Regions from separate parts of the Homo sapiens genome. Here all the other regions are reported to be linked to region 3. Evidence: microRNA targets listed by miRTarBase, many of them from high-throughput screens and not tested one by one. Region 3 holds a microRNA gene; each other region holds the end of a gene's coding sequence.
What was found. Region 3 holds the annotated microRNA hsa-miR-587 (UUUCCAUAGGUGAUGAGUCAC, at 3,892-3,912, opposite strand). A microRNA usually pairs through its seed, bases 2 to 8, with sites in the 3' UTR of a target mRNA and lowers its output. Matches are read on the target gene's strand: a 7mer-m8 pairs with bases 2 to 8, a 7mer-A1 pairs with bases 2 to 7 and ends in A, and an 8mer does both.

Region 1: the mRNA of GPR151 is a reported target of hsa-miR-587. Seed matches in the 3' UTR shown: 7mer-m8 at 3,906-3,912 and 8mer at 3,808-3,815.
Region 2: miRTarBase lists CSRNP3 as a target of hsa-miR-587. The part of its 3' UTR that is shown has no 7-base or 8-base seed match.
Region 4: miRTarBase lists MYO5B as a target of hsa-miR-587. Seed matches in the 3' UTR shown: 7mer-m8 at 2,376-2,382 and 7mer-A1 at 2,905-2,911.

Annotation. Positions count from the first base shown.
Region 1 is chr5:146,509,639-146,517,603 of GRCh38, forward strand. It overlaps GPR151 (G protein-coupled receptor 151), which reads right to left and starts at 6,552. Exons shown (of 1, transcript NM_194251.3): 1 at 3,506-6,552. The coding sequence starts at 6,475. The coding sequence ends at 5,216. TCERG1 (transcription elongation regulator 1) reads left to right here. Exons shown (of 23, transcript NM_001382548.1): 23 at 803-2,323. The coding sequence ends at 1,004. RefSeq lists a silencer at 994-1,194.
Region 2 is chr2:165,676,644-165,684,608 of GRCh38, reverse strand. CSRNP3 (cysteine and serine rich nuclear protein 3) reads right to left here. Exons shown (of 7, transcript NM_001172173.2): 7 at 1-5,908. The coding sequence ends at 4,856. Among named protein-coding and RNA genes, the nearest start is that of GALNT3, 110 kb to the left of the region's middle.
Region 3 is chr6:106,780,087-106,788,051 of GRCh38, reverse strand. It overlaps MIR587 (microRNA 587), which reads right to left and starts at 3,927; the gene lies at 3,832-3,927. It overlaps LINC02532 (long intergenic non-protein coding RNA 2532), which reads left to right and starts at 511. Exons shown (of 7, transcript NR_033557.2): 1 at 511-793.
Region 4 is chr18:49,821,188-49,828,638 of GRCh38, reverse strand. It overlaps MYO5B (myosin VB), which reads left to right. Exons shown (of 40, transcript NM_001080467.3): 40 at 2,016-5,850. The coding sequence ends at 2,168. The region is part of intron 1 of SNHG22 (small nucleolar RNA host gene 22); the gene reads right to left. Among named protein-coding and RNA genes, the nearest start is that of SNHG22, 11 kb to the right of the region's middle.

The sequences.
Region 1 (7,965 bases), not on the chromosome of region 3:
TAAAGCATGAAATCATCTATTTAAGCTCAGCATAAACATTTTTTTTTCCCTCAGAGGAAAGCATTTTGCTGGGTACATTTAAATAAAAATTGTAAATTATGAAATCAGAGCCTTTAAACAAGATTTCTCTGTAGCAAACCCAACAGTTCTTCACCCCTAACAATTTATCATCAGGAAAACAATTTCGCATTGCTTACCAGTCAGTATGCAGGAAACCATTTTTGTTTCATGCTCCAGCTTTTCTTCTTTAAGAGAGAAATTTGAAACATCTTAATAAAGGGTATGTGCACGGGAGGCTAGATAGTGCTGAGGGTGTGGTTTTTAGATATTTTGTCATTTGGATTTTTTGGTCAGGATCCTTAATGTTTTGCATCAGCTTGGGCTTTTAAATTAGATGTGAAGTAAGACTTCTTTCTACATTTTTATAGTTAATTTAGTGAAAGATGTGAAAGTGAAAGCTTGTGAAAGATGCTGGGATTGGCAGCCCCGCAGACTGAAGTCCTCTGTTCATCCACAGAACAGGTACAGCACGGGCAAGATTTACCCACCCACCCTCAGCCCTGATCTGGAGGGACCACCACTAGGGGTGGGAGGGTAATTCAGCTTCTGAGGCCCTTTCACTCCTTGGAGTCTTTGCTGAGGCGACTTACAAAGGTGACCACTGCCGTGAAATTTTTCTTAAAAAAAAAAAAAAAAAAAAAAATGGAAACACAATTAGGAACTAGATGGACATTTCCAGCTCATTTCTGAAAGACCTGTGAACAGCAGTCAGTAATTCTTGGACTTCTTTTTCTTATTTCAGATCCAAAAAATTAATCCAAGAATCAGATCAGCACCTGAAAGATGTAGAAAAAATTTTACAGAATGACAAACGGTATCTAGTACTGGACTGTGTGCCAGAGGAGAGGCGTAAACTGATTGTGGCATATGTTGATGACCTGGATCGCCGGGGTCCACCCCCACCTCCCACAGCATCGGAGCCCACGAGACGATCAACAAAATAATTCTAAATACTCTTCCATAGGGGCATCTATTCAAAATGCTTGCATGAGCCAATTTTCAGGTTTTTACATATATGTGCATTAGTCAACCTATTGCGAAACCATCTGACAAACAGAAGGAGAAGCATTTGTGAACAGTTTCTGAACAGAACACTTTGGAAATATTTATGCTTTTCTTTGTGTGGCATGACTGACATACATACTCAAATATAGGCTGTCTCTAGTAAATCTTAAAATCTTGAAGCTAAAATTCATCCTTTTATGAGGTGTGGAAGTCAGTGACTTGGTGACGTTCTTCCTAGCAGTGTTAATACATGCAAGAAGTAAGAGCATTTGTGGCTTGAACTTGCCAGATGCAAATACCACAGACTCCAAGAAAACCCGAGTTGGGGTTTGTTTTGTTTTGATTTTTTTTTTTTAAAGCGGGTAAAAGAGAAAACACTGAAAATTGAATTCTTATCTTCCAGAGGCTACAATTATTATAATGGACAATACTTTTACCTTTGTCTCTAAAGATCAGATTAGTTTTATTTGTTCACTTACGTGCTTTGATTATCCCCTCTGAATTATAGACCGAGTCTTGTTGTTTAGCCTAAGAGAAGATTTATGTAGTAATTTCTTCTCAGGTATGGAACCACGGTCATAACTAACATGTTGGCCAGAATAGAACCACTGGTTAAACATATTTTATTCACCATTAAGTGATCTTTATCAATATTCTGGATTAGACAACAAATTACCTTTCTGGGTGTTTCTTGTAAACTATACTCCTGTTTGAATGTTAAACTTTGTTGCTAAAGTTTAATTTTAAGATGTTTGAATGTTCAGTTTATGTATTTGAACTACAATAAACCAACCCTTTTTATATATCTGTATTGTATATGATTATTGTTACTTAATTTTTAAGAGCTTATTTTAACCTGTTTTTAAAAGCAGCAAATAGAATTTCCCACAAAGTAAGTTGACTCTAAATCTTAAGTATTACCTAGTTTTTAAAGGTTTGAATATAATAATGCAGTATTTGCAGTATAAAAAGGAAGGAATTTGTAGAGAATCATTTTGGTGCTCAAGTCTCTTAGCAGTGCCTTATTGCCTCATAGCAAGAAGATGCTGGGGTTTTTTTTGTTTTTGTCCTTTGTATTAATGTATGATGGTTTGCGCCTTTTTGGCATTCTTTCAACATGTCGTGTACATCACACCATGAATCAGTTCCTAATTGATATATCTAGCTTTACCTCCCGAGTTAAAAAAAAATCTTTTTATTTTATGCCTTCATAGGTTGCTCGTTTCAGAGTGCCACATAAATAAAATGTTTAACAAAATATATATGTTAATAGAATAATTTATTTTCCATTATCTCATACCGACTATGATTGTAACAAATCCTAGAAAGAAGGAATACCAACAGATCTGTATTTGTATGTTGTGTGCATACAGTCACAGACACACACATTCACATCCATGTTATATAGTTCATAGCTTAAATCTATTAAGTGCCATGGAAATTTTGTGAACTCTTTATGTAGGAACCTGGCATTGATCAGACTAAGGTCTTCAGCTGTAAAGTTGATAAACAGGATATGTTTTTTCTTTTTATGCGTACAAAGGATCTTACTCTGTCTCCTAGGCTGGGGTGCAGTGGTGCCATCATAGCTCACTGTAACTTTGAACTCCTGGTTTCAGTGATCCTTCTGAGTAGCTGAGACTGCAGGCATGCATTACCATGTCTGGCTTTTTTTTTTTTCTTTTTAAAATTTTTTTGGAAATGGTTTCACTCTGTTGCCCAGGCTGGCCTCAAACTCCTAGCCTCAAGCCATTCTCCCACCTCGGCCACCCAAAGTGCTAGGATTACAGGCGTCAACCGCCACACCTGGCCGCCTTCTGTTTCCTTTTTTTTCTTTCTTTGAAGTTCATTTTATAAGTTCATTGAGTGATTTTTAAGTACTGTGAGGAATGAAATTGAAGTGCTTGCCAAAAGGAGCACAACTATTATGTAGTATGTAGAAATACGACTGTCTCACAAGGGTAAAGTTTCCAGAATGCCTTATTTTGTTATTCTGAATTCCACATAATATTGTTTGCCCACTTACTACGTTGTTTCTCACAGTAGAGAAGTGAGAAGAAAACAGTTTGGTGATATCTGTTCTAATTTCCTACTTTTGTCTTAAAGTATCTGGGTTTGATCAGATAAGATACAAATCAAACTTCTCTAAGCAGATTTTTTAAGGGATCAAGTCGGGACTTAACTTTGTGTATCAGGTTCTTAATGAAAGGTTCATTGTAATTACTCTTTGTTCCAGTGTCTGCATCTTGATTTGGTGCTTGTTAGCAAACTCTGAAAATCAGTTCACCTTGAGACCTGTTCCAGTGTTAAGGTCAAACAGCCCCATAAAGCTCCATTGTTCCTAATAATGATTTTGGAATGATAATTCAAGACAAAGACAGCTTTAAATCTCCAAAAACTATCGGAAGTAAAGCGTAATTATTTTTATTTCTTTACAAGTTTAAAGTGTCAAACCCTGGAAGCTTACATCCTAAATTTACTACATATAATGAACATAAAAATTATTTATTCAAATAATCACAGACAATGATAATCCTTTTTATAACTACCATATCACAAGACAATATTTTGGATTCTTGGGTTAAATTTTACTTTATTTGAATACATGAGCTTCAAATAAAATTTGTAATGAAGGATGTAAAAAGAATACAGCCCTACCTCCTGTGTTAAAAAGCAAACTATGACCACTTATGAAAAAGCAAAGAATCCGGAAACCCATAGACAAAAAGCAAAATCTTTTTTTTTCCATAACATATCCTTTATATTTCAGATTCTCCATGGCTTGGTTTGCCCTAAAGGCATTTCTATTCTGAGGGAAACTTTCAGTGAAAATACCCGAGTTCCATAACAAAGTAATCAAGAATCATGGGTGAATGTCATTATACTTAAAAGGGGCAGAAATATATCATAATCATGTTTTATTGGGTATGTTTTACCTTGCTATAAAATGAATGGTTATTGCCTGTTACTCAGATTTTACCGTATGTCTGGGTACACAGTTTTACTGCTTTCTGCATTGCCCTTATGCTTTTTATTTTGTATTCTTAACCAAATTCTGTCTTGGTTTGTTGAATTTTCTCTTTTTGATATTAATCTCTTTCTCAGGTTGCTAGATTATTTTTATAACTTAGCCTATAGTATTTTAAAAGTTGAGTAGGGTTCAAGTTCAATGTTCTGAGTAAGGGTAAGTTTAGTACCATTAACAAGAAAGATCACCATCTCCATCTTCTATTTGTATTTGAGGAGTAATCTATACCTATATCATTAACCATGGTTTATCTTGGGAGAAAGGAGATATTAGGAGGAACACATTTCTGCTTATAGAAAAATAACTTTCCCACATTTTGGAAGTGAAGAGAGGACATTTTTTTAAGTATTTTTTCCCCCATATCAGACTACTGAATGTCATTGGAAAGCTGCTACAATTCTTAGACTTAGAAACTGAAGACTCATTCAGGTAGCTTTAAAAAGTTCACTGAAGCAGGCTTTAGTTTAAGTTTGAATTTATTTAAACTTGGCCAGAACCAGCCATGGCTTGAAATGAGTCCAGAATTGGAATAAGGTGCTGTTTCTTTTTCTTTGACCTTCAGTCATGAACATTATGATACGGACTTTTCATCAAGTAAATTAACACTTATTAAGTAAATGAAGAACGCATTAAAATTTATCATTAATGTGTTAAAAATCTCAAGTGAAAGTAGATTTTGAGCTTTGGTTATGTGAAATACAATTTAGTAGGTAAAATTAGGACTAGCAGGTCCTGGGTGAAACTGAAGGTAAAGGGGCTCAGCTTTGACAGAACCTCTACTGCAGGCTCCAGCCGGTCCACTACAGGGCTGGTCCTAGGGGGTACCCAGTAAAACCACTGTGAACAAATGACAGAATAGCCAGGCTGTCTAATCACTTTGACAGCAACATCTTTACACAACACTTAAATTGTTTGGGAAGCCAAGTTCTAATTCTGAAACAATTATTACTTCTAACATGGTTCTCTACTTACCACATTGCACATTTGGAAAGTGTAGATTGTGAAATATTTTTATAATTCCTAATGGTAATAATTATATCAGTTTGTAAAGTCAGCAATATTGATAAGCAGCAGTACAAGTAAATACAATAATCACAGTTTGTTTTGCTTTGAAACTTAAATCTATTTAACACCTTCCCCTGTCTCTTGATCTTCATGTTCCCAGGGGATAGGGTCATTGTCCTGTACAGAAGGGACTGTGTCCCTCTCATGCCAAAACTGCTCTACGTCAGGAAGGATGGGAATCTCTGCCTTCTCAGTTTTCCCTTTGCCAGAGGAGGGAGAGCTGGGTTTCTCTTTTTCTGGTATGGATGCTGGGGATTCTGGAGATGGAACCTTGTCAGGAAGACCCTCTGAGTTGCCAGCTGGTGTTTCCTGAGACTCTGAGACAGTTGGAGGTTTTTTGGTTATCATCCATTTCCATACACCTTTCAAGCCTTCCCTGAACTCTTCCGACATCACAAGAAAAATGAGAGGATTTGCTGAAGAGATGGAAAACATCAAGACTTGAGACAGGGCTATGAAACCTTGTGGTGGGGCCGGGCCTGCAGCCTTCAGATGCCATACCCACAGCCAAGCTACCCATTCGGGGAGCCACAAGAGAGCAGAGATGATGGCAATGCTCAGCAGCATCACTGTGACTTGCTTTGAGCGTATCTGGTTTCTAAGATTTTGAGTCTTAGTTCCTCGTTTTTTACATTGGTCATAAGCTCTCCAGAAATAAAAGCTGGCAAAAAATAATGGAAGGCCAAATGCCAGGAGTGGGTAGAGCTTACCAAACATCGACATAAACTCTTCAGCCACAGCTGGTACATCCACGAGGCACATTTCCACACCTTCATGATGCCTGATGGTGCTAAAGAACCATTCCGGCAGGGGTAACAGGCTAGCCACAGTCCAGATGGCCACCAGCACTGACCAGATGGTGTAGTTGTGGATACTCACTTGCTTGGCTGGGTCACTTGCATACATGAAGCATACTTTGGCCACCACAACGATTGTCAGGCTCTTGGCTGCCATGCATGTGTGGATAAACCAGTCAGAGGACTTGCAGACAAACCAGCCTAGATCCCAAACACTTTTGGAGTACGCCGTAGCTCGGATAGGTGCAGAAAACAGCAGGAGGGAGAGATCAGCCAGGCTGAGATTCAGAATCAGGGAGTGGATCATGGATGGCTTTCCTTTCCAAGCATTGTGAAGGAGGATGCCAATCACACACAGGTTTCCCACGAAGCCCACCAGGCAGACAGCCACCAAGAGAGCCGGGATGATGGTTCTCCAGTCCTGGGAATCAGAGGGCAGGTACCCTCCGGCAAAGTGGAGGTGAGCAAAGGACACATTCATGCTGCTGGAGTTAGAGTCTGCAAAGGCAGCTGCCAGCATCACTCTTCACAGCTTCTTACAGAAGTTAGATTCTTATTTAGGTTTGTCTTTCTGCCTGGGCTCTTTTGCATAGGAAATAAGTACTCTGTCGTCAGTGTCAAATGACACTTCTGGATCCTCCCCTTGCTTATTTCCTGAGAGCAGAATGTGGAAGGAGGCTGGCTGTTAAGCTCTTCTCTGCTGCATACAATATACTTGTGACTGTACCGACTGTCAGATAGCAGGAGCACATGGCTGCTGCTCATTAGCAAGTCTAATACCAAATCGTCAGCCCTGTGGAGTAATACAAATATACCCATAAATGATGAATGAAGAGAACATACATGTAAGTGGCATGTGTTCCTTGGGGGGTCACTAGAGCCAGTCAAGGCAATTATTTTCAACCAGCTCTTCCTAAAATCTTGACTGCTGTCTGTAATTTAGTGAACACTACATCTGAACCAAGTTCTTTGAACTTCACCTGATGGCCGGATCCAGTGGGTCTGGAGTAGGGCCCAAGAAATCATTTCTAACAAGTTCCCATGAGACTCTGATGCTGCAGGTTGGGAGACCACACTTTGAGAACCACTGTTTTAAACTGAGAACTAAAGCTTCCCCTACCCACTCTGCAGAGATGAGCTTCCTCTTCTTTTCCCCAACCCTTACAACCACCTCAGTTCCATCAACAGCTGGCTGAGTTCAAACACAGCTGGATAATGAAAACAAGTTAGAAGTCCTATTAAAAAAATCTAATTATGGATGACTCTCAGTTTATTCTATTACGAGTTTTTAGAAGCAATTTTACAGCTCCAAATTAGAACTGCTTTACATACTAATAAGACTTTTCAACAAGTGATGGTGATGAAGGCAACTGCATGATGAATTAAGCTGCTTTTCAGAGAGCATTCCTAGAGGATTTACCAAGACAAGAGAAATGAAAGAAAAATCAATATCTATGTGGAAGGCATTTAAGAGATTTTTTTAAATTATATTTTAAAGTTGGTAAAGATTTTGTGCTGGGCACACTGGCTCATGCCTGTAATCCCAGAATTTGGGGAGGTGGAGGCGGGAGGATTGCTTAAGGCCAGAAGTTCGAGACCAGCCTGGGCAACAAAGTGAGACCCCTGCCCCCACCTCTACCAAACAAACAAGAAAAAAAAAAAAAAGAAAAAAAAAAAAGTCAGCCATGATGGTGTACACCTGTAGTCCTAGCTACTTAAGAGACTGAGGTGAGAGGGTTGCTTAAGCCCAGGAGTTCGAGGTTGCAGTGAGCTATGACTGTGCTGCTGCACTCCAACCTGAGTGACAGAGTGATCCTCTGTCTCTAGAAATAAAAAAATTCTCAGATAAGATGATTTGGTAGAACTAGCCCTGAAATTTTAAAATAAGCAATGGATACTCTGGGGGGATTAGAGGAGCTCAAAATGTTCAGAGAATGGGGTTTGTGGGGTTGATATGAAGATACATGCTACATTGAGTGTGGCTAGTCAGAAAAGCTAAAGCATGATATA
Region 2 (7,965 bases), not on the chromosome of region 3:
ATGCAATCAGAAGGTGAAAATTCATATTAGACCTAATATAGAGTAATCAAGCCTTTAAACTTTGGGTTTTGGTTGTGGTAAGAATACAACCAACAGTTCTAATTTAAAATTACAGACAAGTCTTGCCTTTGAAAGCACAAAGGTGCTTCCCATTAAAGCCTGGTATTTAATACACTGGCTATAATGGCACTGCAAACTGTCATCAAGAGAATAAGGAACAGAGATGCCATTTTAAAGAGAAATATTGAGTTGTTTGGAGAAATAGAAGGCTTCATGACACCTTTTAAAAAGGCAGTCTCCTGTTGGCTTCTGAGAATATAAATTTTCCACCTGCTAATTTGATGGTTTGTAACTCCAGCTGAAAGTGATGGAGTCTAACAACCTCTCTGTTTTCCACCTGCTGCAAAGTGATGTCTTTGGAATTTGCAACAGGATTTTGCTGTTTTGATAGGCTTTTTATAAATAGAAGTAAGAGTGATTGTGTTCCACACTGTTGTCTTAAAAGTTTCCTGAAATGTTTCCTGGGTTATGCATGAGTCAAATCCTCCTTGAAACTGTCTGATAGGAGTTTGCTGGTGTAAATTTAGCATCACTTATATAGGTCTAACATTGAAGAAGCAATTAATCGAAAATTTCTTTTTCATTTGATTCAGTCCTAGCTGAGTCCTGATTTAATTCATACATTTCAGATGGAGGGAGAGAGATGAAGGGCGATCCAGTGAGTTCTATAATTTAGGTAAAGGAAGCATCTTTTAGTTGCAGCTCACATATAATTAGACAAGAACTGATGTCAGTTTTTCTAATGTCACTTGATAAAATCACATATTAAGAGGATTTGAGAAAGCTTGATTATTTCATGCCACCCTTCATTAATATTATCCATTATAATTTGTAGTGTTCCCCTCTTTTTACTACCCAAGACAGTTGTTCTAACACAGCATGTGTTCAGTACATATTTGTTGAAAGAAAGAATTGATACTTAATAAATTTTGAATATAAAGACCAAAGAGTCATAAACTTGTGCAACAATATCAAAAATTGAAATAAAAGAAACAGTGATTAGCAAGTTATAGAAAGTAAATCATGGTATGTTTTCCTGTTTAATGGTAATCATACCAAAATTTTGCCTAGAAGTCATCTATTAGAATGTAAAATTTTAAAGAACATAGCCACTTAACATACTCTCTTTGCTTCTTGATTAATTCGTAACTAGTGTTTTTGCAACTCATAGTTTTTTTTTGGAGGGAAGGAATTCAGGGAGTATTGCAGGGCCATATATGATTGTGAAGATTTTAAACATACTAAGAAACATTAGTTTCACATTTTACATGTGGCTGTCACATTGAGAAAATGGTTTTATCACAAAGAAATGATGGGCTTTCAAAAAGTAACTATATTATTCAATCAACCAAAAGACATGAGACAAATGAATTTTACCCATGTCTTAATAATTAATGATCAAGAGATAAGGAGGAAAAACTTAAGTAAATCTCTTTCATTGACTTCTCCCAAAGGAAATTGGGAATGACAAAGGAGATGCAAGCTGCTTCAGCCACTTGACTTTCAAATCAATTCGGCCAGGATTATAACTGGGAATTAAGTCCCATTTAAAGGTATAGGACTGGTACTAGAATAGCCAGGGCTGGAGCATGAAGCTTTGCAATTGATAGTGAATGACTAAAAAGTTGTGTGTCAAAGACTACAGTTTGGCTAGATATACTATGGAGGCAATACAACAGCTGCAGGTCAGGTTATTGTGTCTTGGCATAAAGATCTTAAGTATTCCAACTGGCTGCATGTAGCTTGATCCCCATTTTTAAAAGCTTAGAAGGACTGTAGCACTTTCCTGGCATGTGGGCAGCTCTTTGTTGAATAGAACGGCTATTAATGGAAAAAAAAGTCAGCTGGAACAGTGTGCTCTCTCAGCTTTTCTGGGAAAGGAACTAAAAATGAAATGATTCCATCATAAGTATGTTTGCAACTTTGACCTGATATTTTCAAACTACAGCTCTACCAATTATCCTCTTTTCTAAACCACATTTTTTTAGATCATAAAGCCCAACCAGATTCTGGGGTTAGAAAAACTCAATACTGACTATTGGCCATTGCCTGAAATCTGTCATTCTCTAAGTGTGTGATATGTATATATTTTGTATGTGTGTGCATGTGTATGTGTTAGGTATATGGGAGAGTTTTAATAGGTAGCCTGTGTATGTGGTTTGTGGGATATGTTTACAGGTTAGTCAGGTATATGAAAAGTTGGAATAGAAGCTGTCATGATTGGAAGGGTAATTCTTCTCACAGGGCAGTGACTTTCTACCCTAGATAAATGGATAGGGGAAAAAAACTCTGTTTTCTTAAGCATCCTTTTGGAAACAAAGCTAGAAAACAAAGACCTAGCCAAAAATAAAAAAGTAGGCTTCATATCGTCTTAGGAAAATAAAGCTGAACTAAAATTAAAATATCTCTTTTCAGAAACTGGACTGTCATTCTACCCTTCAGCTTTGCTCAGGCTGGAGCTGGCTCTTCCCCACTCTCCCACACTCTGTGTTCCAAGAATAACCTCAGAGTACTTCACAAGCAGATCCTTCAAGAGCTTGTAATGGTCCAGCAAATACAGTACACATGATCCTTTCATGTGCTTGAATGAAGGAACAATAGCCTCTTGTCATTTTCTCTTTGGGCCTGTGCTCTTTAGATTGTATCAGTAGGGGGAAAATTTTGGAGATTAAGCACTAAAAACTGTCACTTTGCAGACAACATGGGATATATATATATACACACACACACACACACACACACACATACATATATGTGTATATATATGTGTATGTGTGTGTGTGTGTGTATATATATATATATATATATATATATATATATATGTATATTTGAGATTTCAACAAATCCTCATTCTGATTAGCCCAAAGGGCCAATCATTCAAAAGGAACAACCCTGCTCTCATTACTGCAACCTACATAAAGACAAACCCAAAGCTCTTTTAATGTTAATATTAAGAGTTATAAATTTGGCCCAATGTAGGGGGGAAGAGAAGGGGCAGAAACCAACTGCACAGTGGAAGAGCTGCCAAGTAAACATTTTTTCCCCAAAACAAAGTTTAGTAGAAACTTTTCCACTGGAGGACTTTCTCTAGATCAAGCATTTTTAAGTTCAATTAAATAAAATATTTTTTTTAGAAATTGAGATCTACAATATATTTATATCCATAATTCTAAACACCCAAGTCTAAAAGACATAAAAAATAAGTAGCGATGCAGTCACTGAATAGCAAGTCATGTCCGCATTTCAAATAGTTATAAAACATGTGAAGTGATATAACAATAGAAGGTCAAAAATATGAAACAGGTTTAGCATAGTCATATTGCATTGGAAAAAAAAAGGCAGAATTACACTATTTAGTTACCTAAATTAATTTACAGGGAAACGGGATCCTAGAAGTCCTCCGACGAACCAAGTGCAGGTAATCTAAAGGTGGGGAGTGCATGTTTTATTTCTATCTGTTCTCTTTAATAAGAGAATGTGAGGTAATTAGAAAGTATGCAATGCATTCTGGACTGTTCTGCTAGTTGTCCCAGGCAAGACAAATCAAAATGCTTCAGAAAAGAAAGGCCTAGTTGAGTATTTGGGTAGAGGCCCCCCTTCAATCAGCTAGTCACTAAGTGGAAATCTCATTATACACTGATTTTGTAGAGATGGATTGATCACGCTGGAGAAAAGGCTGGTTGCTGAGGTCGTGTCTCTTCCATGTTTCCTCAGCCTCCTCTGCATTTACTGAGTTAGGTCCTCAGAGTGGTGAAGGAAAATAGGTCATTTTCCCTTCATAAGTATCATTGGATGATTCCTCTATATTAATTATATGAACCTTATAATAGTTAAAGATCTTTTTAATTTTTTTTTAAATTTTTTCATCTCAAAGAGTTCTCAGTCCCCACCCCACACGAGGTACCGTGAAGGGGCACTAAAGTGCATTTTGATGTAGGGGGTAGAGCTTAAAGGTGCTGTCCAAGCTAAGAATCAAGATGATGCTGTTTAAAAAAGAAAGGCAATTCCTTCTACCTCCATCTCTGGAGTCAGCTGAGGGAGGGCAGTGAACTAGACTCTCCCCAGAGGATTGTCCTAACTCTTAACTTTAGAGAAAACTGTGTAAGGACCTGCACATATAGAATCATTTATTTGTCCAAAATAGCAAAAATAGGCCTATTTCACCCTTAAGAATTTGCAAATCTGATCAGTCATGATCATAAAAATGTGAATGGATTCCAGATGCAATCCATGTGGGCATGCTCTGTGGAACTAGCTATGCATCTTCAGCTTGAATGAACATGCGGCTGTTCATTTTCATCAAAACATGTCTTCTAAACTACCATAAATAAAATACACATGGAACAATTAAATCTTTTTCTTACAATAATTACTTTTACATTAAAAAGTCATCATTATCTTCAGATATATTGAAAATTAGGACTCTAAATCTTATTATTTCCCAGCCTTAGTTAACAATCTTGCACAGGCCCGATAATCCAAAATTTGGAGCTCTGATCTACACAGATTGGCAGGTTTCACACAGTTTGACAGGTAGGCAACTGTGAGATATGCATTTTAAAATTTAGCTTTTTCTATCAAAACAGTCTGAAATCTTTTAAAATCCCTACAGAGACTGTATTTGTGCAATGCCACAGTCATGTGGCTAGAAAGGAAAAAACAAAATACAGTCTGGAAGATTAACCACCGTCCAAGTTTTCTTGGTCTTCAGTTTAAACAATGATGAGCCCAGGAAATCCAATTAAATACAGTGCCTTAAATAAGAGAAGAGTTGGTCCTAGAATAATTTAAGCTACTAAACAGGGACTGTCTCAACCACGGGTGATTTGATGCACTCTTCATGCAATATGCTCTTTTCTGCAAGGCTCAAAGAATTTTCAGCAGGATGCTCTGAAATGTGACTGTCACCATTCAATGCAGAGACAAACCCTTCTTGGGAGGGGCCTTTCAAGTATGAGTGAAATTCCACTTGAGGGTGATTGGACCTGTGTTCAGGATATAAACTATTGCAGGGCACACCGCTATCATTTTCGGAAGAGGAGCAGCAAACGATTACAGAGGGGTTGGCAGCTGGGTAGTGGGAGGCACCATAGGCCTCTTCTGCTTGTCGGGCATAGTCAACGAATTGCTCCGGGGTCATGGTGTAAGGCACCAGCGAAAGGGTACCATTTTTGACAGTGTCTCTTTCAGAATAGTTCTCAGAGATCTGATTTGGAGTTCCTGGAATGTGGCTATCTATTTGGTAATACAGAGTTGAAGAGTTGGCATAAAAAGAAGCATTCTTTGCATGGCTTTCGTGAACGGCGGTGCCATCAGAATAACAAAGAACTGAAGGAAGAGGGACAACTTCGGCATGGGTGCCCAAACCTTCCACGAAGCCATCTCCTTTGTCATCATCGTCATCCTCCTCCTCCTCTTCCTCTTCTTCTTCCTCCTCCTCCTCGTCTGACTCACTAGGTGCCAAGCTTTGCGTGCTAGAATCTGTGACTCCGCTGCAAAAGCTGCTCCCATCCTCCTCTTCTTCCTCCTCCTCTCCTTGGCAATCTAATTCTTCAGCCGACTGCAGGTGCAGCACTGCAGCCTGGGGCTCAGTTTCAATCTCAAAACTGTCTGCGATTGAATATTCTACGGAGTGAGCGACAGGGCCCATAGAACTACTGTGAGCACTTATCTCACTGTGGCAGCCATTCAGCGTGGGGATTTGCTGCTCTCGGTTTTTCTCCAGTTCAAGTTTCATTATTGTGTGCAAAAAGTGAGTCCGAACACGGATAGGATTAAATTCAATTCTACCTGCTGTGTTACTACATCCTTCTTTAGTGCAGCCGCATGGGAAAGACATACGATCCACCTTGGAAGGAAGAACACAGATTAGCACCATGGAACTATTACAAACCAAATAAACGCCCAGAACTTTTCAGTAACTTCTTTGAATTAAGTAATCCATCCACTTAATTCCACATATGCCAGAGCAAATGACAACCAAACTTCAAATAGAAATGAAAAGGGGAAAGTGAGGGCTTAAAACATAAGAGTTAACTGCTTTTTATACCTATATTCAAAATAAAAATGGGTTATGGGCATAAGTGTGTATTTTCAGTTCACTGACCCACTCCATGGCTTTCTACCCTTTTTTCTGTATTCCCTACTTTCCCTTCCCTCCACTTCTTTAATTTTGCTCCCATGTTTTGAATGCTCCTGTCTTTCCCCCAAGTTCCTTTTCTTTCTGCTGCACCCCAGCTCTTGTGCCTGATTTTAAACAAGCAAACTTACTGTACTCCTCTCCACATGCTATTAATCTAACATATATGATGTACCCCATGTTAACTTTTCCTTTTGCTTTTGCTTATTATAAAGGTGCTTTTCCCTTTGCTTATTATAAAATGGACTTACACAACTTAGCATCATGCAACCTCACAATTTGCTCTCATTTGCTTACCTTCTTATTGTTTGGGGTGCTTGGTACATGGGTGCATGTGTGTGTACTGTACTGGAGCGCTGCAATGGATATGCACATTCATGACTATGACTGGGGGACTCATGTGTTTAGGTCCTGAGTCCCCCCTTCCCTCTCCATTCCATTAGATACAATCTTCTTGAAGGAAGGGCATGTACGTTTCATCAATATTCCAAAACTATTTTGGTGATTGGATACCGAAGATAGAGTGTTTGGGTTCAACAAGTGTTGGACTGACCTCTTCACTCAGGTGAGAGGTGGGGTTCTGGACAATCCAAGGGTATTCATGAGAGATTTACCAATTGTCTCAGATTCCACAGATTAATCTGTATGCAGACCAGAGTATAGGCAAGAGAAAAAAACTTGCTCTGCTTGTCACCTTATCCAGCCATGGAATTTCCTATGCTAAAGAAGAGAAGGCAGACTATTCTAATACAATCATCTTGGCCCCAGTAAAAAGTATAGCAGATATTAGAGCCAGAATTTGTATCTGTATTTTTTTTTTTTTTTTACTCATGAATCTTTCTGTGAACCCATCTTAAGCAACTGTTCAGCAGATAGGCACTGCCCTCTTCTTTTGACTACCTGAGTTGCTTTCCTTATTGAAAAAGCCAAGTTTCTGCATAAAATAGTGACACTAATCATAGCGCACCAATGACATTATAAATGAAGGGGGACCAGGAAATTATCTGATTGCCAGTCATCAGGGGTTGGTAAACTTTTTATTTGCAGAGGTCAAAGGAGTCAATATTTTATGCTTTGTGGGCCATATGGGCTCTGTGGCAACCACAATACTCAATTCTGCTGTAGGAGCAAGAAAGCAGTCATAGGCAATATGTAAAGAAAAAAATGTGGCTGTGATCCAATAAAACTTTATTTACAAAATCATGTGGCAAGGTCGGATTTGGCCTGTGAACTTATAGGGTGCCAACCCCTGACCTAGTTCGGTTCCTTCATTTTAGAGATAAAGAAAGTAACCCAGTGGGCCTGACTTGCCAATTTCATATAGTTGGCAAACAGCAAAGATGGAAGTACAATTTCATTTTCTGCAGTCTCAATCTAGTAATTTTTCCACTAATCCAACCACCTTTAATCAATCATCATTTTATATCCCATGGATGGATCAGAAAATACACACTCCAGTGTTAGGGATGTCATGATCTCCTTCAACATTGGTAAAAAGCTGAAATAAGGTGATATAATACAAGAATCCAAGATAAAATAATTTTAATTAACTCAGCTGCTACTTGGGTTGTCTTTCAGATTATATGTTATATGTATAAGCATTTTATGTATTCCCATGAATGGCCTTAAATTAGTCTTTCTCTCTTCCTGAATTATGTCTTTCTTCCTGAATTACATGTCTTGCCTTGCCAAAAAATTTTCTTTTACATGTGGGAAGCTTCATTATAGGTACCATGACTGCCTCCTTAGGGGGTGGTAGACAATGT
Region 3 (7,965 bases):
GAGAGAAGTAGCCCTGGCACCTGGGGGAGCCATACCTGGGATGGACAAAGGTAGGCATGGCTGCTGAGCCTGCACTGAGTAGATGGTCCTGGATGCTCCGGCAGGTGTGGTGCGGCTTGGTTTCCAGCAATCTTGCTGGTGGGTGTTCAGCCACTGACTGTATGTGTATATCTTTGTCATTGTTGTTATCAGTATTATGGTGATGACTTTCTCTGACTTTTATGCATTTAGGCTAAAGGAACCTGGAAAAACACATGAATCAAAATAAAAGTTGATTCACCTTTCCAGGGCAGAGTTACAAGCGTCAAAACTCTCAGGCGAGATCTGCCAGTGACGTTCTGACCGCATGCCTCTCTGCAAGGAAAGTGGTATGTGTTGTTTTTTCCAGCAGTGGAAATACAAATGATTAACTCTGGAAACCATGGCTGTTTCACTGATAACTAATTTGTTTGCTGATAAATGATTACCCAGGAGCCAGAATAGAGACCCAAAAGTCAAACTGCAAAAATTATTAAGTTCCCTCTGTATGCAGAATATTGTGCAACATGGTTATGGGTACTACAGTGGATGTGAGTGTGTAGACCTTGTACAATAGAGCTTATAGGCTAATGAGAAGACAGGAAGAAACAACAGGAACACATATAGCTGGAATGCAGATGGGATCTGTGCTACTTACGCTAGCCATGGGATGATTAGAACAAGATAAGAGACATGAGGAAGACTTCTTCAAGGAGGTGCTCAAGCCATGTTTTGGAAAAGAGAACTCAAGGTCTGGCAGGGAGAAAGGAGCAAGGTAACCAGGGGAAGTCTTGGAGGAGAGCAAGATGATGCTGAAACTGCCCTCACTGTTGGTTTTAATGTTGTTCTTGTCTTACTGGTCGATTCAGAGCATTCACGGTGCAAGAGAGATAGGGACATTTGATTTAAGAAATAGAGCAGAATCTCCTCAAATTAAATCAGAATTTTTGATGGAGTAGAGGTCAGAGCTATGTTTTGGAAGTGTTTGGGAAATTGTTAGTTTTGTTCCCAGGATCTGATGCTTTTGTGGTTGAATATTCCATGTGAATGTTTTCTCTGCCCATGCAAATAGTAGGTCTCCCAGACAAATATCTCAGTGGTGCCAGCACTTCATTTTCCAAATGTAGGAGGATCTTTCTAATACTTCCTTTGTGGGGAACATGAAACTGTTGGAGGCTTGTAATCATATCTATATTTTAAAGAAAGATTTTTTTTATCAACAGGCTATATGGAAATATATTCAAAACTGTTAGTATTATGGTTGGATATTAATTTTGAAGTATTATATAGTTTTTTTCCTCCTGTATTTCTTTCTTAACCCTCTCACCTACTTCTCTTCTTGTTTTTATTATTTATTTATTTATTTATTTTGAGGCAGAGTCTCACTCTGTTGCCCAGGCTGGAGTGCAGTGGCATGGTCTCCACTCACTGCAACCTCCATCTCCCAGGTTCAAGTGATTCTCTTGCCTCAGCCTCCCAAGTATTTGGGGTTACAGGCATGTGCCACCACACCCAGCTAATGTTTGTATTTTTAGTAGAGACAGGGTTTTGCCATGTTCTCCAGGCTGGTCTCGAATCCCTGACCTCAGGTGATCCCCCCGCCTCGGCCTCCCAAAGTACTTCTTGCTTTTTTGAGCAAGGTTACTCTGTCCTCATTGTCTTAGTGAAGGGATAGTCAACAGGGGACAGAGATATAGAAGCCCATTTTCCTGGCTTTTGAGTTTTTAAAGCCCTTGTGTGTAAAGGAAGGACTCTGACTTATACAAGAGATTTAGGAGAATATGTGGTGCTCCACTTGAAGCTCCCTGTCTCCAGTATCTGGGGACTTGGTGTGGGGGAGGTGGGTCACAGAGAAAGTAAGAACTGTATATTCATTAGGGAATTCTTGAATGTGGTATTGTGTGTCCTGGGTGAATGGGAATGGAACCCACTGATTAGCTTGTCGACATTTCTGTAGACTAAGATTTGTACCTGCAACTGTCTAGTGCTAAATGGTAAATATTTTTCTTCCAGTTGATTTGCCTGGGGTTCTCATTAACTTTCTAGAAGATTTTGGATAGAACTCTTGGATATTTAATGTCACAAATTTTAGTTTTGATCTTGCCTCTTGGGCTCAATGTTGCATTCCTGTAACTCTCCAAATTACCGAAAAACAATTATTGGAATAACCCAAGTTTACATGAAAAGTAAACACAGCAAAGAGCTGGAAAAACAGCATGTGATGGGTCATGGCCAGATTTGCCCATGGAAAGCCCCTAAGTGGATGTAAGTAGAAAATTCTTAGGTCCTGTAACATAAGTGCAGATAAAGGGAAGTTGCTTAATATGGAGCACCAGCACAGAAAAGAAGAATGATTTTACGTAAACATTGTGCAGTAAGTCTCTTAGAACCCCAAACCTGGGGCATAGGCCTAGGGGATGTGGTTTATTGGGTTAAAGAAGGATTGTCTGAAACGGTGATATACATCATCCTAGGGGCTGGCATGCCCTTTCTGGAGGGGAGAGGAGCCTTTGTTCTGGGCTTCTGGAGTCTTGTAGATTCCTCATCCTGAGAGCTGCTGCCCACAGCCACCACCCCACGTAGGTGTATCCAGTTTAGAAACAAAAGGGGGACTCTGGCAGGCTGGCTGCTATGCTGTATTTGTGGTCATTATTACTATTATTATTATTATTATTATTTTTTTTTTTTTGAGATGGAGTTTCGCTTTTGTTGGCCCAGGCTAGAGTGCAATGGTGCGATCTCAGTTCATCGCAACCGCTGCCTCCTGGGTTCAAGCAATTCATCTGCCTCAGCCTCCTGAGTACCTGGGATTACAGGCATGCGCCACCACGCCCCGCCAATTTTGTATTTTTAGTAGAGACGAGGTTTCTCCATGTTGGTCAGGCTGGTCTCGAACTCCCAATCTCAAGTGATCTGCCCACCTCAGCCTCCCAAAGTGCTGGGATTATAGGCATGAGCCACTGCACCCGGCCTTGTGGTCATTATTTTTAAATACTGTAGTATAAGTAATGGAATATGTGTGTAAACCAATTAATCCTAATCTGCTTTTACTCTTTAGGGTTGATTAATTAATGGATAACACAAAAAAGTGAACTCTAGTCTGTGTCAACAACTGAGTTTCCTTTATTTGCACACAAAAGTGTTAAAAGTAATTGTTGATTTGGCAAACCAGCAGATTTTTTTTTGTTTGGTTAGGAGTAATCTAATGGGACTAATTGTCTTGTGTGAATAAGGGATAAAAATGATCAAGCCCAATAATTATGCCATCTGTGTAGGGCTGGGAGTCTAGAGCCCACTGGTGTGACATCTCCAAGGATAAGACCACTCTCCCCTTGCCCCCCACCATCTAACCATAGGAAACCAGTCTTTGCGTTTGCTTCAAAAACTTGTCTCCAACATTTGCAGGCTGGGGCAAGAGTGCAAATGGAGACCCACATAGCATATGTTTAAACATCTAAAAGCTATAAATCCAGCTAAGAAACCATAATATAGAACATACTCTATCCTCTTGCCTTGAAAAATATATATTCAGAGGGACCTAGAATATCAAGTTTGGATATAGAATTCTTCAACTCAGAGTTCCATCTGCTTGTCCCAGTGTCTCCGTTCTCTGTCTGCTCCCAGCTCCATCCCTCATCCCATATTAAAGACACCCCAGTCTGCATAGCCCATTCTTTATAAATGGCTGCCTGGTGGCCTAGGGATGAGGACAGCCATGAGACAGATGATCCTCAGGACTCAGACCCCCTGAAGAGGCCTGAAGTGAGTTCAGGGCCCTTGGGATCCTGGGCACCAAAGAGTGGTTTAGGTGGGATATGGGATGGGCTTTCCACTGGTGATGAGTCACAGGTGCAGACACATTCCCTGAGCCCTGTGACTCATCACCTATGGAAAGAGGGTGCATAGGAGGGGCAGAAAGAGACCTTTTAAAGGACAGCAACTCTCTCTTGCCTGGGTATTTCTGCTGTTTTTTTTGGGGGGAGCCGGAGGTTGCAAGGAGAGAGATAGAGAGAGAGAGAGAGAGAGACCTCTCCTCTTAGCAAGGTTTTAAAAGATTAATATAATCTGGTATCTAACAAAGATCCCTGCATTTGATGAAATGTGGTCTGAGCTGAGACTTGCATTTATTGCAACAGCTCCACTTGGTAGCAAGCTAATCAGGGTGGGGACCTACAGTCTCTACTTGTGTCCAACCACAGGAGGTGACTGATATTTTTTATGGTGAGATCATGGCTTACTGATGCAGAATCAAGCATGCCCCAAGAGTTCTGTTTGCATCTGTTCACCTCCTCACTGGACCTGACACATGCTGAATGATTAGTTGGGTGTAGTAAGAGCGTCTGTTTCTCCTTGCACATTTGAAAATGAAGTTCTCAAGTAGGTAGTGTAAAGTCATGAATCTAATTCATAGTTCCTCTCTCTCAGTCTACCATGCACCCTTCAGCAAGCACTCTCTTCCCACTGGTCTTTGAGCCTCATTCAGCCCCAGCTGGTGAGTTGAGGAAATAAGCCTAGGTGAATGTGAGCTCTGATAATCCAAGGGCTTTCAGAAAACCACAACAAGCCAGGAAAACTACCAAGTTTTCCATGGAGGCAGCAGGGAAAGGGAGGAGGAGGGTCTGAGTGTCTGCCAGATTCTAGACTCAACTTTGCTGAGGATTTACCCGTGAATTTGTACAAATCTCTTCCGTCTTTCTTTCTCAGTTTCATCTGTCTAAAATGATGAGTGTGAATTAAATGGCCTAAAGTCCCTCCTAGTGCCAAAACTCTTGGGTTATTTGGCTCTCATTGGCTACAGTGCCTTCTAATGTAAGCAAATGTAAAATTCCCTCTTCCCTCTTCAGCGCAAATGGACTTCATTCTCAAGGCACAATGGGGAGCCTGTATCCTGGAGGGCCCTAAGAAAGGAGCCAAGTCCATTGGCTGTGAGTCGACAGGGACAGGAGTCCTTCTACCAATCTCTGTGTGGCTGGCCCAGACCGCCTGCTCAGCCAGGCAGTGCTCCTGTAAAAGCAGAATAATTTTCATTCCCCTCACATTAGTTTAAGCGAGGATTCACTTTTGTGTCTGCATGTCAGTTGATACTCAGCGGATCGCGTGGTTTATAGCTGGACTGATATCGTTTAAATCTGGAACTCTTTTCCTCTGGCCTCAATAACCCAAGCGACTTGTATGCTTTTCCTCAGCTCCCTCCCTTTTCAGGAAAAGTGATAAAGAGGTCAAAGAGAACACAGTGAGAGGGGGAAGTTGCTGGAGCAAGCTTTCCCCAGCTGTAATGTTCTCTCAGACGTCAAGGTTGTACCCTGTTCTTAGAGGTTGTTCCAGATCTTAGATAGTCACTATGCCCAGAGGTAAATACAGCTGGGGCAGCAGCCAGAGGGAATGATCCTCCAGCTGCCCGCTGCTGTCCTTAAGTGTGGCTGTCATGAGACGCACAAGTTTGCAGGGAAGACTGAGTGCCTAGATTGCGGGAAGAAAGATAAAATTCCTCAGCCTTGTTTACGTCCTAAATTGGTAGTCTGACTTGGTGAGCTATAGATTATAAGGAGGTTGCTTTGCAGACTGTGAGGAGTCACCGAGCAGCTATTCAATGGCAGAGGTGAGCCTGGCATCGTGGTGGCCCCTTCTCATCCAGGGGCTCGCCCACCTTCCTCTCTTCCTCATGTCCACTTTGGTTCTCCTGCCTGATGCTCTTTCCCTCCCTCGGCCGCCTAGGTCAGCTCAGGCCCCACAAGTGTTTCTCATCATGACACCTCTCTTCCCTGGAACCCACCCCTACGTTCCTGCTTCCTGCCTGTGAGTATGTTAGGGTGCTGTCAGCAGGACTGTGGGGTGGAGATGCCTGACGCCTCTCACCTGAAGATAAGAGGTGAGCAGGCAAAGTGCCTGAGTCTGTCTGTTCTGCTATAGCAAAATACCTGAGACTATATTGGGGTAAATTTTTTTTTTTTTTTTTTTACTTTTGGATAAAATGTTTGTGTAATATCAAGAAAAAATGGCCCTGCAGTGATTTGTCTTTGGGGGAGGAGGGGGAACTTGCAGGGGAGAAAGATTGTGGTTCAGAAGAAAATTATAGTGTTAGATTAACCTTGGATTCCTGGGTAGCCAGGTGTTCAGCCATGGTATGGAGCTGCCCACAATGCCCCTCCTCAGCATGAAGCAGCCAAAAAGATTGATGACCAGATTCCTCATGATGGAGAACTGAATTAATCTGTTTTCTCGCTGCTGATAAAGACATACCTGAGACTGAGAAATTTACAAAAGAAAGAGGTTTAAGAGACTTACAGTTCCACATGACTGGGAGGCTTCACAATCATGGCAGAAGGCAAGGAGGAGCAAGTCATGTCTTACATGGATGGCAGCAGGCAAAGAGAGAGTTTGTGCAAGGGAACTCCTCTTTATAAAACCATCATATCTCATGAGGCTTATTCACTATCATGAGAACAGCACGGGAAAGACTTGCCCCCATGATTCAGTTACCTTCCACTGGGTCCCTTCCACAACATGTGGGAATTCAAGATGAGATTTGGGTGGGTACACAGCCAAACCATATCATTCTGCACCTGGCCCCTCCCAAATCTCATGTCCTCACATTTCAAAACCAATCATGTCTTTCCAGCAGTCCCCCAGAGTCTTAACTCAGTTCAACATTAACTGAAAAGTCCACAGTCCAAAGTCTTATCCAAGACAAGGCAAGTCTCTTCCACTTATGAGCCTGTAAAATCAAAAGCAAGTTAGTTACTTCCTAGACACAATAGGGTAAAGGCATTGGGTAAATAAAGCCATTCCAAATGGGAGAAATTGGCCACAACAAAGGGGCTACAGGCCCCATACAAGTCTGAAATCCAGCGGGGCAGTTAAAGCTTAAAGTTTCAAAATGATCTCCTTTGACTCCACATCTCACATCCAGGGCATGCTGATGCAAGTGGTGGGTTCCCATGGTCTTGGGCAGCTCCACCCCTGGGGCTTTGCAGGGTACAGCCTCCCTCCTGGCTGCCTTCATGGCTGGCATTGGGTGTCTGCAGCTTTTCCAAGCACACGATGCAAACTGTCAGTGCAGCTACCATTCTGGGGTCTGGAGGATGGTGGCCCTCTTCTCACAGCTCCACTAGGCAGTGCCCCAGTAGGGACTCTGTGTGGGGACTCTGACCCCACATTTCCCTTCTATACTGCCCTAGCAGAGGTTCTCCATGAGGGCCCCACCTCTGCAGCAAACTACTGCCTGGGAACCCAGACATTTCCATACATTTCCTGAAATCTAGGCAGAAGTTCCCAAACCTCTGTTCTTGACTTCTGTGCACTTGCAGACTCAATACCACATGGAAGTTGCCAAGGCTTGGGGCTTGCACCCTCTGAAGCCATGGCCCGAGCTGTACATTGGCCCCTTTTAGTCATGGCTGGAGCAGCTGGGACACAGGCACCAAGTCCCTAGAATGCACACAGCAGAAGGACCCTGGGCCCAGACCATGAAACCATTTTTTCCTCATAAACCTCCAGGCCTGTGATGGGAGGGGCTGCTGCAAAGGTCTCTAACATGCCCTGGAGACATTTTTCCCATTGCCTTGGGGATTAACATTCGGCTCCTTGTTACTTATGCAAATTTCTGCAGCTGGCTTGAATTTCTTCTCACAAAATGGAATTATCTTTTCTATCGCATTGTTAGGCTGCAAATTTTCCAAACTTTTATGCTGTGCTTCCCTTATAAAACTAAATGCCTTTAATGCTACCCAAGTCACCTCTTGAAAGCTTTGCTGCTTAGAAATTTCTTCCACCAGGTGCCCTAAATCATCTCTCTCAAGTTTAAAGTTCCACAAATCTCTAGGGCAGGGGCAAGATGCCACCAGTCTCTTTGCTAAAACATAGCAAGAGTCACCTTTGCTCCAATTCCCAACAAGTTCCTTATCTCCATCTGAGACCACCTCAGCCTGGATTTCCTGTCCATATCAT
Region 4 (7,451 bases), not on the chromosome of region 3:
ATGCATTGAGAAGAATGTGTATGCTGCTAAGTGGGGTGTTCCATATGTGTTTGTTAGGACTAATTGGTTTATAGTGTTGTTCATGGCCTCTATTTTCTTATTGATCTTCTATCTGGTTCTATCCATGATTAAAAATGGGGTATTGAAATGTCCAACCATTACTGTAGAACTATCCTCCCTTAAAGTCTGTCAATTCTCCCTTCAAATATTTTGGGGTTCTGTTGCTAGATGCAGATGTTTATTATATCTTCTTGATGAGTTGAACCTTTTATTAAAATATAATGTCCTTCTTTGTCTCTGGAAATGACTTAATTTCTCCTTCATTCTTGAAGGGTAGTTTTGCCAGATTTAGAATTCTTAGCAGACAAGATTTTTTCCTTTCAGGATTTGAGCTGTGTCATCCCACTGCCTCCTAGCCTCCATGGTTTCTGATGAAAAACAGCTGTTAATCTTATTTGAGGATACCTTATACAGTCAGCCCTCCATATCCACAGGTTCCATATCTGCAGATTCAGCCAACCACAGATTCAAAATTCAGTATTCACAGGATGCAGAACCTGTAGTTATGGAGGGACAACTTTTTCTATCTATAGGTTCTACAGGGCCGACAGCAGTACTTGCATATCCATGGATCTGGGTATCTGTGGGAATTCCTGGAACCAATCCCCCATGGATACTGAGGGATGACTGTATGTGACAAGTCACTTCTTTCTCACTGCCTTCAAGACTCCCTCTTTGTCTTAGGGTTTTGACAATTTAGTATAATGTGTTTCACTGTGAATCTCTTTGCCTTTATCCTGCTTGGAGTTCATTGAACTTTTTGGATGATTACATACATGTCTTTCATCAGATTTGGGAAGTTTCTGGCATTATTTCTTCAAATATTTTGTTGCCCCCTTCTTGCTCTTTTCCTTCTGGTACTCCTGTAATGTGTATGTTGGTATACTTGATGGTGTCCAATAGGTCTGTTAGGCTCTGTTCATTTTTACCTCATTATTTTTATTTTCTTCTCAGACTGGATCATTTCAATTGCTTTATCTTCAAATTCACTGATTTTCTTCTGCCTGCTCAAGTCTGCGGTTAAACTTCTCTAGTGAATTTTTCATTTCAGTTTTTGTACTTTTCCTAAAATTTCTGGCTTCAAATAGGAAGCAGGGAGGGGCTCTGTGCCTTTAAATTTTCCAGTTGATGCCACTAGTGGAAGCCATTGCATCCCAAGGAATGTCTAAACCAAGACAGGCATCTGCTGGGACCCACCAGATCAAAGGGCACAACCCCAAATTTTTGGAGGACAAGGTCCCACTGCCTACCCTGGCCAGCTAGCTACTCCAGGAATGTGAGCTGCTATCCCCATAGCTTCAGGGGAGCTGAAGAGAGGGGGATAGTAGCTGGGTCACACACACAGTTCCCTTAGCAAAGATCAGCAGCCTCTCCCTTTACCAATCAGTCTCCCGATTGTTATAAATGTCCAATCAAGTTCCAGAGTTATGAGATAGTTGACAATCACTGTTTCTACTTCAAGGTAGCTTCAGTGGAGGGACCAATCCCTAGGGCTTCCTACTCTGCCATTTTATGTGATGTACTCTTCTCCCATTCTACAGGTAAAGAAACTGAGGCATAAAAAATTCAGGAATTTGCCCAGGGTGGTGCCAGGATTAGAGCTCAGCTGTCTACCTAAAAAAAAAAACCCATGCCCTTGGCCACTTCACTATAGTGCCTCTCCATATGGTTTGCACCTGAGATGTATTTTATATTCTCCCTTAGACAATTTTTTAAAGAATGCTAGAATTGGGAGAGTGCTTACAGCCCTCTGATCTCCAAGAAGCCTAAGTCAGGGCTTCTCTCCCCACTAAATACCTCAAGGGTGAGGAGATCACATTCTCCTAGTCCTGAAGTTCTACCTAATTGTCGTAGAAATCTTTCCATGATATATGCCAACTCACTTTTGTGAATTCACTTAAACTGGCTATTTTTAGGGGTACTCAAACTTTACATGGTCTTATTCTTCCCCATAGGCACAACTACAAGAGCGGAATGACCCTCAGCAACTGCTATTAGATGCCAAGCACATGTTTCCTGTTTTGTTTCCATTTAATCCATCTTCTCTAACCATGGACTCAATCCACATCCCAGCGTGTCTCAATCTGGAATTCCTCAATGAAGTCTGAAGATGCATGTTTCCAGCATTAGTTTGATTCCCAATGTGAGCAAGAAGGAAGTATATACAGTAAAGTAAATTCAAGGATCTGTTAAATCTGGTAAAAGTAGATCAAATCAGAGATTGACAGCCTGTGGAGGGTGCTGAACTATACAGAATTAGACACAACTATGTCATTATTTTTTGTACCTACTGCTCAGAATAAAAACACTTGAAATATGGAAGATTTTAAGTTTGATTTCAGTCCAACACATATACATAATTTATAGACACCAAGCAGTCCCCATAGACATATAAAAGGTGTCAATTCTATAAAACGAAGCTGCCTAGTTTTGATCTTTGCATAGAACTAGAGAATGTCCAAATTAAAATACCAAATATATATAAGTCACATAAATTGCCTTCAAAGGGCTTTAACAAATAATGGTACTAATAACCATGATAATGGCATATACTGACATTTCCCAAAGTTTGCAAACCATAGGTGTGGTTGAGTTTGTGGTGAGATGTTTTAAGAACAAAAATATGGGGATGAGACTTCTGAGAAATATTCCCAAAATATTTTTTAATGGCTGATTATACACAGACAGTGGTGTAACTGACCTCCAGACCAGACATTTTGAGTACTGGTTTCTGAAGCAAAATTAGAAGTGCCAGTCCTCAGTGTGCTCAAACGCTTTTGTGTTATCTTGATTTAATGGAAGAGATTATTAAAATGCTGCTATCCCAAACTCCAAGTGAGAAAGATGGAAAAATATTTTGTTTCTGATGCTAGTCCATACACTTTCCAAGTCCCACAAAACTTTCACAAAAATGTATATAAGCTAAATATTAGAAACGGATAACAAACTTGTTTTATTTATAGATGTAAAAACCAAACAAGTCAATATGAAAGCTTTTAATCTCTTAATACCATTAAGCTTCCAGTAAGAGCATCACATAATGCTCTACTGTTCCAGAAACCAAATAGTAAAACAAACTAAAGTTCGCACATCAGATCATCTGAAAAACCTTCAAAAATAATCAGTTCAGGGATATTATACAAAAGTTTGGGTTTTTTTTTTTTAAGAGAATAAAATGGCTTAGGTCAACTTTCCCTTTTCAGGTTATTTTCAACGTTTTTCAAATTTAGCACACAAAAAATTGTAAATATCTCTCCCACAAAATAAGGATTTTAAAAAAGTAATTCAGTAATATAACAGGCTTAGATGTTTGCTGCTCTTAGAATTTTTTTTAACTTGTTTTTGGTTTCTTCAAAAGCAAGCATTCAATTGGAAACCCATATTCTTTCCACACTTTTTTTTACTGTCTTTTCTGTATTTCTTGATAGCAGTATGCTGTTCCCATAAGAAAAAAATGGTATTTGCAAATCATGGAAGAACAGCCTCTGTATTACATTGAGAAAATAAGATTTATCCATGAATTGGAAGTAGAACAGCCTGCCTTCACCCTCTTTTACTCAACCACCCAACTTAAAAGGCTCTTGGAAACACAGCACACTCCACGCTACCTTCTGCACTGTGCCCTTAGAGCACAGCTTCCTCAGTTGTTCTCTGCATCTCCTGGGGCTTAGGCCAGTCTTAGCCTGGGTTAAGGCTGCTGACATTGTGTTCCAATCAGTTGTCATGGGCATTATCCCCTCTACATCCACATTAAACATGCCGGCTTCTCTTGGGCATCGGCAGAGCTGTGCCTTTTTCTTTCAGTTACAGTTACATAATCACTGACGTCCATGACACTTACCCATGGATCCATGTGCTGACTTCATTTAGAAGGCCAATCTAAAACAACTGGGTTTGTGGCTACCTCTTTAAAGTTGTTTGTGAAGGATAATTTGTTTTTTAATGCACTTTAGTTTGAAAGTGAGTCTCTTATGTAAGGACCATCCTTAAAAGACCAAAAATGCCTTGTTAGAGTGTTAAGGAGTTTTGACATGCAGTGGTTCCACAAACACAGTGGCTTACTATCCTTATACACTGTCTTATACCATCATTCTCTCCATCTCTCTTGGTCACTACTCTCTGCTGTCACTGGTTAATCACTAGGTGCCAAGAGCTTACTGAATAAAAGCTTGGCAATTAGAATAAATGGGGAGGGAAGGACCTTATGAATAGTCCATTTAGCCTAAGAAATGGCAGATTTAGTTCTTCTCTTCCAAAAGATAAAGGTATATCCTGGAATTGTACTTAAAACTTACAGATGACTAACAAATATATACTTTATATGTAGTTAATATTTAGATCTGTCTTATTTAATACTTGGAGGCTAGAAGAAGCATCTTTAGGGGAACTATATAATCTTTTGTTAGCATTTTCTCTGCATTTTAAAAAATCATTTCAATTCAAACATTTATCAGTGTCATGAAATCAGTAATGACTCTTTAACAATTCAGGTTTGAACTCTGCATTAGATGTCTCTTTAATTTTTTAATATTTAAAATTTAGTTGACATTTTTTTCACCAGGTGCCTTTAGCGGTTACTAAGATAACTGACATCAGTTGTTTCTCTGAAATAAGTGTTGCTGTGGGAATAATTTTAATGTTCAAGGTGATATCATGGGGGAGTTTTGTCTTTTAAAACATTAGAAGCATTTTAAATATTAAGAATCAAATATTTATAGATCAAAACTTGTGTTTTAAGTATTATACGGGACCTGTTTACTTATAGTAAATGTGAATGTACACATGAGTTGTTGCTGAAGCTGACAAGCATATTACATACATGCATTTTCCCTGTGCCCTCATAGTTGCAGTTAGAGTTCCAGTACCTGTAGGCTCACCTGGGAGGCAGATTAGACCCAAAGGTAGATGTTTTTCCCCTTTCCATGAAGCATGTCAGTGGGAGTTGCTTCCTTTGATTTCCCTAGTACTAAATTTTAAGGCTTTTGTAAAAACAAAACAAAACTAGGAGCTTGGAACAGTTAAAAATCAACACTGCTACCATCAATTCATCAAATATTTACTTAGAGCTTTCATACATTAAGATTCCAGTAACCAATAAATTAGAATTCATTTCTTCTGCATAAAGTAAATTTTCATACACTTGACCTACTAAGACAGCAAGGGTGTCCTAAATTGAGGCATTTGTATAATGCCTGCATAACTAAATGGTCACTAAAATGGGACAGCATGGGGCAAGACCTTGTAGTTCTTCACAGAATATTTGTGGTCAGTTTCTCCAATTAATTTGCTGCATGAGCCAAATAACCATAATTCACTTTTTATACCCACTGGTGCCATAATTAGAGAATTAGAGGGTGTAGACAGAGGTTAATGCCAATGAGAAACACAGGACAGGGTTTTTTTTATTATAAAGGTCATTAGATACAAAAGATTGTTTTTCAAAAAATTTCTAATTCTAACAAAGGGGATCAATCAGAAATGAAACTAAGCTACTTTCTAAAGTGACACTGTATCAGAATAATCCAGATTTGAATATAACATTTTGCCACCAACTGACATTTAGATGAAGGACTGCCTCTCTGAAAGAGTTCAGATCATATTCAGGGGTGAATCCAACACCATGGAAGAAAGACTACTGATGAAAATATTTTCCCACTTTGCACAAATCTGTAAACTACACCTTTGTTTATAGAAAAATGCTTGTAATAGTCACTGTAATATTTAGCTGTGGATAAAAATTTGTGGAAATAAATACTTTTGAATAAAGAGGTGTGCCAAATCTAAATGAAATTTAAAACTCTGCAGCTACAGGTTGACAAAGTTTCTTTGTAATGCTCTCTTGAGAAGCTTCATTATGGGGCCTATATTCTAATACGTGTCAAGATCATTTAAACCAGAGGTCAGCATCTTACAGTCCAAAAGTTGGGGGCAGGGAGAAACTCTCAGATAACAAGGCTTATTGAGCAATTACTTTAAAGCTATGGAATTAAAGGCAGTTTTGGTGTAGGCAAAGACAAGTAGATCAACGAAACAGAATAGGGAGTGCAAGGATAGGCCCAATCCTATGTATAACATAGCATACGGTAGAGATGGCATGAAAAATCAGTGGGGAAATAGTCATAAGATCTGTATGGAGGAATTTGTAAAATATAAGTGAAAAACAATGACAACATTAAAATGGAGAAATAATTAGGTACAAGAATTCGAAGACTCCATACCACTAAAAGTTTGTCAGTTGTCCCCAAGTTGATCTATAGATTAAAAATCAAAATTTCAACTGTTTCTATGTGAAAACTGACAAGCTCATTATAAGATTTATATGGAAGAGCAAAGGCCCATGAATAAGGAAGACCCTCCTTGAGAAAGTGGGAAGCTTTCCTTAGCAGGCATTGAGACTTACAAAATTTCAGTAATTAAGATGTGTGAGGATGACAGACATGGAAATTTTTTTTTTTTTTTTGAAACAGAGTTTCGCTTTTGTTGCCCAGGCTGGAGTGCAATGGCACAATCTCAGCTCACCGCAACCTCCGCCTCCCAGGTTCAAGCAATTCTCCTGCCTCAGCCTCCCTAGTAGCTGGGATTATAGGTATGTGCCACCATGCCCAGCTAATTTTGTATTTTTAGTAGAGACAAGGTTTCTCCATGTCTGTCAGGCTGGTCTCAAACTCCCGACCTCAGGTAATCCACCCGCCTCGGCCTCCCAAAGTGCTGGGATTATAGGCGTGAGCCACCGCGCCCGGCCCTGGATGTGGAAAAATTGACCAGTGGAACAGAATAGCCCAGAAACTGAGCATCTATATGGAAATACTGATACATTTTTTCTTAACTGGGAGTACACATCAAAATCACCTGGAAATCTTTAAAAAAATTTACACCCAAATTTATGGAATAAGACACCTCCAGAGATGGTGCCCTTCCACACCCATTGTTAACCTGACCCACCTAAAAATATACAAGAAGACATCCCCAGGGATGGTGCCCTTAAGCACCCATCATTAGAGACCACTATTGAAATATTTCATGATCCAGAAAAATGGTCACAGTATAATTAGTCCTCAACGTCACTGATAAGTTCTAGGAAACCACGAGTATAAACAAAATGACGTAATGACACCAATTTTAACATAAGCTAGTTGATATAAACAGTTCCTTCGGCATATTTATGGTCATACAAACATCACCAAATTTTTTTTTTTTTGAGATGGAGTCTTGCTCTGTTGCTCAGGCTGGAGGGCAATGGCAAGATCTCAGCTCACTGCAACCTCTGCCTCCTGGGTTTAAGTGATTCTTCCTCCTCAGCCTCCCGAGTAACTGGGATTACAGGCGTCCGCCACCATGCCTGGCTAATTTTTTTGTATTTTTATAGAGATGGGGTTTCACTATGCTGTCCC